2 separate regions of the Homo sapiens genome follow, and region 2 is reported to be linked to region 1. The links are microRNA targets in miRTarBase. Many come from high-throughput screens and were not tested one by one. Region 1 holds a microRNA gene; the other region holds the end of a gene's coding sequence. Distances are between the middles of the regions.

The links. The annotated mature microRNA hsa-miR-181c-5p reads AACAUUCAACCUGUCGGUGAGU and lies in region 1 at 1,526-1,547, shown strand. An mRNA with a match to its seed (bases 2 to 7 or 8) in the 3' UTR can be bound and repressed. Matches are read on the target gene's strand: a 7mer-m8 pairs with bases 2 to 8, a 7mer-A1 pairs with bases 2 to 7 and ends in A, and an 8mer does both.
Region 2: miRTarBase lists ZNF439 as a target of hsa-miR-181c-5p. Seed matches in the 3' UTR shown: 8mer at 799-806, 7mer-A1 at 883-889, 8mer at 964-971, 8mer at 1,048-1,055, 8mer at 1,130-1,137, 8mer at 1,299-1,306 and 1 more.

The regions. Positions count from the first base shown.
Region 1 is chr19:13,873,200-13,877,320 of GRCh38, forward strand. MIR181C (microRNA 181c) reads left to right here and starts at 1,500; the gene lies at 1,500-1,609. It overlaps NANOS3 (nanos C2HC-type zinc finger 3), which reads left to right and starts at 3,935. Exons shown (of 2, transcript NM_001098622.3): 1 at 3,935-4,121. The coding sequence starts at 4,050. MIR181D (microRNA 181d) reads left to right here and starts at 1,676; the gene lies at 1,676-1,812.
Region 2 is chr19:11,868,019-11,872,018 of GRCh38, forward strand. ZNF439 (zinc finger protein 439) reads left to right here. Exons shown (of 4, transcript NM_001348719.2): 4 at 1-1,468. The coding sequence ends at 551. It also overlaps the pseudogene VN2R14P. Among named protein-coding and RNA genes, the nearest start is that of ZNF69, 18 kb to the right of the region's middle.

The DNA of each region.
Region 1 (4,121 bases):
CAAAAGCGACGGGGCTCTAAGGGGCAGGGCCTGGGCTGGGGCCTTGGCTGGTGGCTCCAGACTGTGGGTGGGGCTCTCGGGGGCGGGGCTCTCGGGGGCGCGTCCTCGGGGGCTCGGCCGGGTTCCGTTGCCACCACCGTGAGGGGTGTGGTGGGGGGGTGGTTCACGCAGCTCGGCACACTTGGGGGTCCCTCATCTACCTTGGGGTTATGCCAGGCGGTTATTTTGGGCCTCAGTATTCCCCTCGGTGAAATGCCAGGGGCCAGGAAATTACTTATTTTTTTGCGACGACGGGGTCTCGTCCTGTGACCCAGGCTGGAATACAGTGGCGCGATCACGGCTCACTGCAGCCTCGAGCCTCGAACTCTTGGGGTCCAAGCGATCCTCCCATCTCAGCCTCCTAAGTAGCTAAGACTACAGGCTCACTACACCACACCCAGCTAATTTTTTTGTAGGGACAGGTATCTCGCTATGTTGCTCAGGTTGGTCTCCATCTCCTGGGCTCAAAAGATCCTCCCGCCTCAGCCTCCCAAAATACTGAATTACAGGCCTGAGCCGCAGCACCCGGCCATGCCGGGTGCACCTTCCTAGGCCGTCCGCAGACCCAGGTCAGGGGCGAAGGCGCGCTCGCCCATCCCTGGTCGTCACTGCTTGGCTTGCGGGGGGTGGGAGATAGGGGTGCGTACCTGTAGGCCTGGGGGCACCCGGGGCGGGGGGGTGGTCGCCGAACTCTGTGCGATCACTGGAGGAAGGGACTGGGGGTCATTTGAGGGATGAGGAAATGGAGAGGGGGCGCCGCAGCCGGTTTTGAGGCCCAAGGGGCAGCCCCCACGTGGCTGCGCGGACTCCCTCCGGAAGTGCCCGAGTTCAGATGCTGTGTGACCGCGCACGCGGGGCGAGCGGCGCCCTCTCTGAACCTCCTGCCTCTCCCCTGTCTAGTGGGGCCCCAGTGCACTTGTAAAGTGGAGAGACCTGACGACCCCCCACCCCCAAGCGCTCCACTCACGCTGTTGTGATTCCTAAACCATCGTGCCCGGAACTCAGTGAAGCTCCCAGAACGTATTACATTGTATTAAAATGGCTTGTTTATCTCCACGTTGCATCAATGCCCTCGGGGCCAGGATCCTCCGTTGCCAGACTTCCCGGGAACACTTGGAATGCCTCCTCCACCTCGGACTAGCAGTGGCCTTTGGCCTCAGTCTCCCCAGTTGACAAAGGGGGGTAATCTGCACCTCCAGGATCACTTTGTGAATTACTTAAGGAGCGGGCTTGAGGCCAGCACTCCCCTGCACTGCTACATCTCCATCCCCATAGCAAAGGCTACATTTTATTTACTAGCATTTATATTTGCCTTGTGTTTTTCCCAGATCTAGGTGCAAACAGCACCTGAAAAGCGTTTGTTTATTTCATGAGAGAAAAGGGGTTCCTTACTCTCTCCTCCTCTCCCTCTTCATGCTCTCTGGTTCCCTGCCACCTACCCCACCCCCGACTCCAGGTCCCGGAAAATTTGCCAAGGGTTTGGGGGAACATTCAACCTGTCGGTGAGTTTGGGCAGCTCAGGCAAACCATCGACCGTTGAGTGGACCCTGAGGCCTGGAATTGCCATCCTCCTGCCGGTGACTCTGACCTTCCAGATCTAGGGGGGCCTGGGGAGCCCCCAATCCAGCCTGGGCACGTCCCCTCCCCTAGGCCACAGCCGAGGTCACAATCAACATTCATTGTTGTCGGTGGGTTGTGAGGACTGAGGCCAGACCCACCGGGGGATGAATGTCACTGTGGCTGGGCCAGACACGGCTTAAGGGGAATGGGGACTGGGGACAGGACCCCCCACCGCCACAGTCACTCAGCCTGTTTTTTGCCCTGACCCCAACCACTCCTCTTTGGAGAGGAGAGCTGGTGTCTGGAATCTGGATGGGCTCTGGCTGGATTTGGGACTAAATATTAGAGGGTTGGGGGTAAACAGGCTGGGGCAGGGCAGCTAAAATCCCCTTTTTTTTTTTTTTTTAAGACAGAGTCTCACTCTGTTGCCTAGGCTGGAGTGCAGTGGCCCAATCTCAGCTCACTGCAACCTCTGCCTCCAGGGTTTGAGTGATTCTCTGGCCTCAGCCTCCCAAGTAGCTGGGATTACAGGCATCTGCCACCACAGTGGGCTAATTTTTGTATTTTTAGTAGAGACGAGATTTCACTGTGTTGGCCAGGCTGGTCTCAAACTCCTGACCTCAAGTAATCCTCCCCCCTCGGCCTCCCAAAGTGCTGGGATTACAGGCATGAGCCACTTTGCCTGGCCTAAAACCCCTTTCTGAAATGTGGGTGGTAAGTTCTGCTCCGTGGAGTGCTCCATAGTTTTGTTTTTTAAATTAGAGACAGGATCTCGCTCTTGTCACCCAGGCTGGAGTGCAATGGTGTGACCTTAGCTCACTGCAGCCTCTAATAACTGGAGTCAAGCGTTGATCCTCCCGCCTCAGCCTCCCCAGTAGCCGGAACCACGGGCACGCACCACCACACCTAGCTTATTTCGAAAAAGTGTTTTTGTAGGAACAGGGTCTCAAAACGTTGCCCAGGCTGGTCTCCAACTCCTAGGTTCAAGCAATCCTCCTCGGCCTCTCAAAATGAGCCACAGTGCCTGGCCAATAAAAGTTTCTTAAATGAATGGATGGGTGGATGAGCTGTGTAAGCGGCACAGCGTCTCTCCTCTGTGTCCAAGTCCTGAGCACACCCTCCCCTCCTGGGACTGAGCTGAGATCTCATCTCGGGGAGGACACTGAAGACCTGTAGGTACTAGGGGTCCCCTCCTAACAGCCCAACTTGCTATCCCCCACCTCCCAACTCCAGAGGGTTCTTTCTCACCCCTCTGCAGCCCCCGCCAGGAAAGGGCTCCCTCCCCAGCACCTAGCCTCAGGGGGCCCCAGTAACTAGAAGAAGGAGGCAGATGTGGTGCTTTTTGTTGTTGTTGTTTTGAGACAGAGTCTTACTCTGTTTCCCAGGCTGGAGTGCAGTGGCTTGATCTTGGCTCACCGCAACCTCTGCCTCCTGGGTTCAAGCAATTCTTCTGCCTCAGCCTCCTGAGTAGCTGGGATCACAGGCACCCGCCACCATGCCCAGCTAATTTTGTGTGTGTGTGTGTGTGTGTGTGTATTTTTAGTAGAGACAGGGTTTCACCATGTTAGCCAGGCTGGTCTCGAACTCTTGACCTCAGGTGATCCGCCTGTCTTGGCCTCCCAAACTGTTGGGATGACAGGCATGAGCCACCACTCCCTGGCCTGGTGCATGTCTTTATAAATAACTGGATGGGCAGGTGGCTTCACACCTCAGTTTGCTCATCCATTCAATGGGGGTTCCACTAAGACAACCGATGTGAAAACTCTTGGAGGGAGACCAGAGCTGGGGGCCGGGGGGCATGATCCTTCCCCCCTACCCCCGCAACCAGCCCATGAGCCTGGGACTACCACACTCCTTTCAGAGACAGCTGGAGCATCAGCAACCTCCCGCCTGGACACACACACACACAAAGAACCCAGGGGCACCTGGCCACTCCCCCGCCCAGGGGAAGGAAGAAAAAGTTATAAAGAAGTTACTAAGTTAACTTCTTTAAGTTACTGGTAACTGCTAGTCTTTGGGGGTGGGGTTTCCAACCCATTCTCCCCATCCTCCAGTGGGGCTGGAGGGCTAAGGACTCCTACAAGGAGGGGAGGCAGGGTAGCCCCCCAATTCCCTGGAGGTGTGTACGGGGGGCTGTGGTGCACCTCGCAGGATGCCCCCCCACACACCCTGTGTCCTGTAGTCCCCCGGCACAGCCAGAGGCCATACAGCCCTTTAGGAGGAGTATTAGTGGGGCACCAGGCCCCCCTGTGACAATAAGGAACCTCCCACAGCCTGCTCCTCCCTCTTCACACCCCCTTGGAGGTAAAAGGAGGGTCGGCCAGCACAGACTCCCAGGCTCCAGAGAGGGGAAGGAAGGGGCAGCAGAGAGGGGTCAGAAGGAGGGAGCTTAAGCCAGGCAGGGTTACTTGTCTCTGTGACTCCTTCCGCCTGGCACATGCTGCCCAGCTATGGGGACCTTTGACCTGTGGACAGATTACCTGGGTTTGGCACACCTGGTTAGGGCTCTGAGTGGGAAAGAG
Region 2 (4,000 bases), 2.0 Mb from region 1:
AAAGGACCCACTCTAGGAAAAAACTTTATGAATGTAAGCAGTGTGGGAAAGCATTATCCTCTCTTACAAGTTTTCAAACACACATAAGAATGCACTCTGGAGAAAGACCTTATGAATGTAAGACATGTGGGAAAGGCTTTTATTCTGCCAAGTCATTTCAAAGACATGAAAAAACTCACAGTGGAGAGAAACCGTATAAATGCAAGCAATGTGGTAAAGCCTTCACTCGTTCCGGTTCCTTTCGATATCATGAAAGGACTCACACTGGAGAGAAACCCTATGAGTGTAAGCAATGTGGGAAAGCCTTCAGATCTGCCCCAAATCTTCAATTGCATGGTAGGACTCACACTGGAGAGAAACCGTATCAATGTAAGGAATGTGGGAAAGCTTTCAGATCTGCCTCACAACTTCGAATCCATCGTAGGATTCACACTGGAGAGAAACCCTATGAATGTAAGAAATGTGGGAAAGCCTTCAGATATGTCCAGAACTTTCGATTTCATGAAAGGACACAAACACATAAGAATGCACTCTGGAGAAAGACCTTATAAATATAAGATATATGGGAAACACTTTTATTCTGCCAAGTTATTTCAAACACATGAAAAAATTCACACTGGAGAGAAACCCTATAAATGCAAGCAATGTGGTAAAGCCTTAATTGTTCCAGTTCCTTTCGATATCTAAAAGGACTCACAGTGGAGAAAAACTCTATGAGTGTAAGCAATGTGGGAAAGTCTTCAGATCTGTCAAGAACCTTTCAATTTATGAAAGGACACACACTGGAGAGAAACCCTATGAATGTAAGAAATGTGGAAAAGCGTTCCATAATTTCTCTTCTTTTCAAATACATGAAAGTTGCACAGAGGAGAGGCGCCCTAAGAATGTAAGCATTGTGGGAAAGCATTCATATCTGCCAAGATCGTTTGAATACATGCAAAACACACACTGGAGAGAAACCTATGAATGTAAGGAATGCAAACAAGCATTCAATTATTTTTCTTCCTTGCATATACATGAAAGGACTCATACGAGAGAGAATCCGTATGAATGTAAGGATTGTGGGAAAGCATTCAGCTTGCTTAATTGCTTTCATAGACATGTAAAGACACACCAGAAGGAAACCCTATGAATGTAAGCAATGTGGCAAAAGCTTTCACTTCTTCCAGTTCTTTTCAATATCATGAAAGGACTCACACTGGGGAGAAACCGTATCAATGTAAGCAATGTGGGAAAGCCGTCAGATCAGCCTCAAGACTTCAAATGCATGGAAGCACTCACACTTGGCAGAAACTCTATGAATGTAAGCAGTATGGGAAAGCCTTCAGATCGGCTAGGATTCTTTGAATACAAATAATGAATGTAAACAATTAACTGTTTATAATAACTGTATACTAACAAATGTTATTCTTTTTAAATAATTAAGAAGCTATAATAAAATATCCATTGGTGTCATGTATTAGATCAAGCTTATAATGTTACATTGTTATTATTTGGATATTGTGAATCAGCATTACCTGGATTAAATGCCAGGCATATTTTTCCTCATGTAAACTTTACTTTTCATGCTTATGTACTTTAATTTTTATTTCAACTGTAATTTTTCTTTTTTTTTCCTTTTGCTTTTTCTTTTTCTTTTTTTTTTTTTTTTTTTTTTAGAAAGAGCCTCACTCTGTTGCCCAGGCTGGAGTGCAGTGGTGTGATCTTGGCTCACTGCAATCTCTGCTTCCCAGGTTTGAACAATTCTCCTTCTTCAGCCTTTTGAGTAGCTGGGACTACAGGCATGCACCACTTCACCCAGCTAATTATGTGTATTATTTAGTAGAGACGGGGTTTCACCATATTGGCCAGGCTGGTCTCGAACTCTGGACCTTGTGATCCTCCTGCCTCGGCCTCTCAAAGTGCTGGATTTACAGACATGAGCCACTGCGCCCAGCCTCAACCCTAATTTTTCTTTCACTCATAATACCAAAAGTTATCTCATGTATCTCTGAGTACCTTCTTGCCCAAAACCAGCAGCGCCATACCTGCTGTCAGCAAGGGTGTAATATACCATAGTGATAAATATGACCAGAAGACATAAATGACTGTGGGATGTATGAGAATTACAAGTCACATTGGTAAGAAGATAAAAATTTTCGTCATGTTTATGATTTGAAATATGTTTACTTCTATCAGTTTTAGAAATACAGTTACAAAATGCCCTTGTTTTTGTCCTGGTCCATCATGATCACTGAGGAGCATCATCTCATATGCCTGATATGTAACATGTGTCTCTCCAACAGTAAAAGACTTGGCCTTGGCTGGGTGTGGTGGCTCACACCTGAAAACCCAGCACATTGGGAGGCTGAGGCAGGCAGATCACCTGAGGTCAGGAGTTCGAGAACACCCTGACCAATATGATGAAACCCTGTCTCATCTAAAAATACAAAACTTAGTCAGCCATGGTGGCATGCTTCTGTAATCCTAGCTAGTCAGGAGGCTGAGAAAGGAGAATCACTTGAATCTGGCAGGCAGAGGTTGCAGTGAGCCGAGATCCCATCATTGCACTCCAGCCTAGTCAACAAGAGCGAAACTCTTTCTGAAAAAACAAAAACAAAAACAAAAACAACTTGGCCTTGTGGTGAGGGGAGGTCAGCTATAGACTTCTGGACCTGTTTTTGCCTTACTTATTCTGTAAAGACTAAAACATTTTCTAAAATGTATGGGCACTGTTAACTAGAAGGTACCTTAGTTAAAATATATAAATTCATTTACGCTTTATAAAGCTATATTTTTTTCAAATTGCTTTACTGAGTCATAGGAGGCTAATAAATTTGTGTAAATTGTCTAAATAAAAGCCTTTCTTCCTCTGATAATGTGCTGTTGATGCTAACTTGTCAACAGCCTGCTTATCTCAGCAGTGTAAAGTTAACGGTAACATGGAAAAGTCACTTTTATATATAATGCAATGGCTAGAACAATTCTGTCACTTCCTGTAAGGTCCAGTGAAGCTGCTCTTCAGAAACAGTTATTTAAAATCCTTATAGTCTAAATCTAGGCACCACAGGATGCAGAATCAATCACTGACCAAGCCCTGTCTGTGTGTGGAGGTGACACACCCAGTCCCAGATAATGTATCCACATCAGTGAAGGGAGGAGTCATTGATTGTCGGATCACACAAAGTAACTCAGAACAGGGAAGACAGGGCAGTGAAACCTGGCCAGGCATGGTGGCTCACACCTGTAATCCCAGCACTTTGGGAGGCCGAGGCAGGTGGATCACTTGAGGTCAGCAGTTCAAGACCAGCCTGGCCAACATGGTGAAACCCTGTCTCGTCTAAAAATACAAAAAAATAGCTGGGCATCATGGTGTGTGCCTGTAATCCCAGCTACTCAGGAGGCTGAGGCAGGAGAATCGCTTGAGCTTGGGAGGTGGAGGTTACAGTAAACTGAGATCACACCATTGCTCTCTCCAGGCTAGTCGACAGAGCGAGACTCCATCACACACACACAAAAAAAGTTGGGTGCACCTGAATCCAACCCCTGCCTCATCCTTCTGAATTGAAGGCCAAATGCACCCTGATACTTTTCACCAAAGAGTAGAAACAACACCATTCACTTGACCCCAAATGTGACTTTCCACAGGATGCAAGCACAGTGTTGGAATAGCCAATGACAGTGACAATAGAAGTGCAGGGTGAGGGTGATGAACAGGACACACTGGAGAGCCTGACATTAGGCTAGATATTGGGGTGTCTTGATGCTTCACAAAGAGCCCAAGGAGCACCCCAAAGAGGACACTGGAGCACAGGCCCAAAGGATCTTCGTATGCCAGGAAGGCCACTAATTTTGGAAGTCAGTGATGTTGGTGGGTTTAGCTTTGGGAAAAGAAATAGGGAAAATCTTTTCTTACAGCTTGAGAAAAATGAATAAACTTCCACAACAAAGTATAGTAGATAAATTGGTGAATTACAAAGATTTAGCAAAATATCAGTCCTCCTTTGCAAGTTGGAGAACT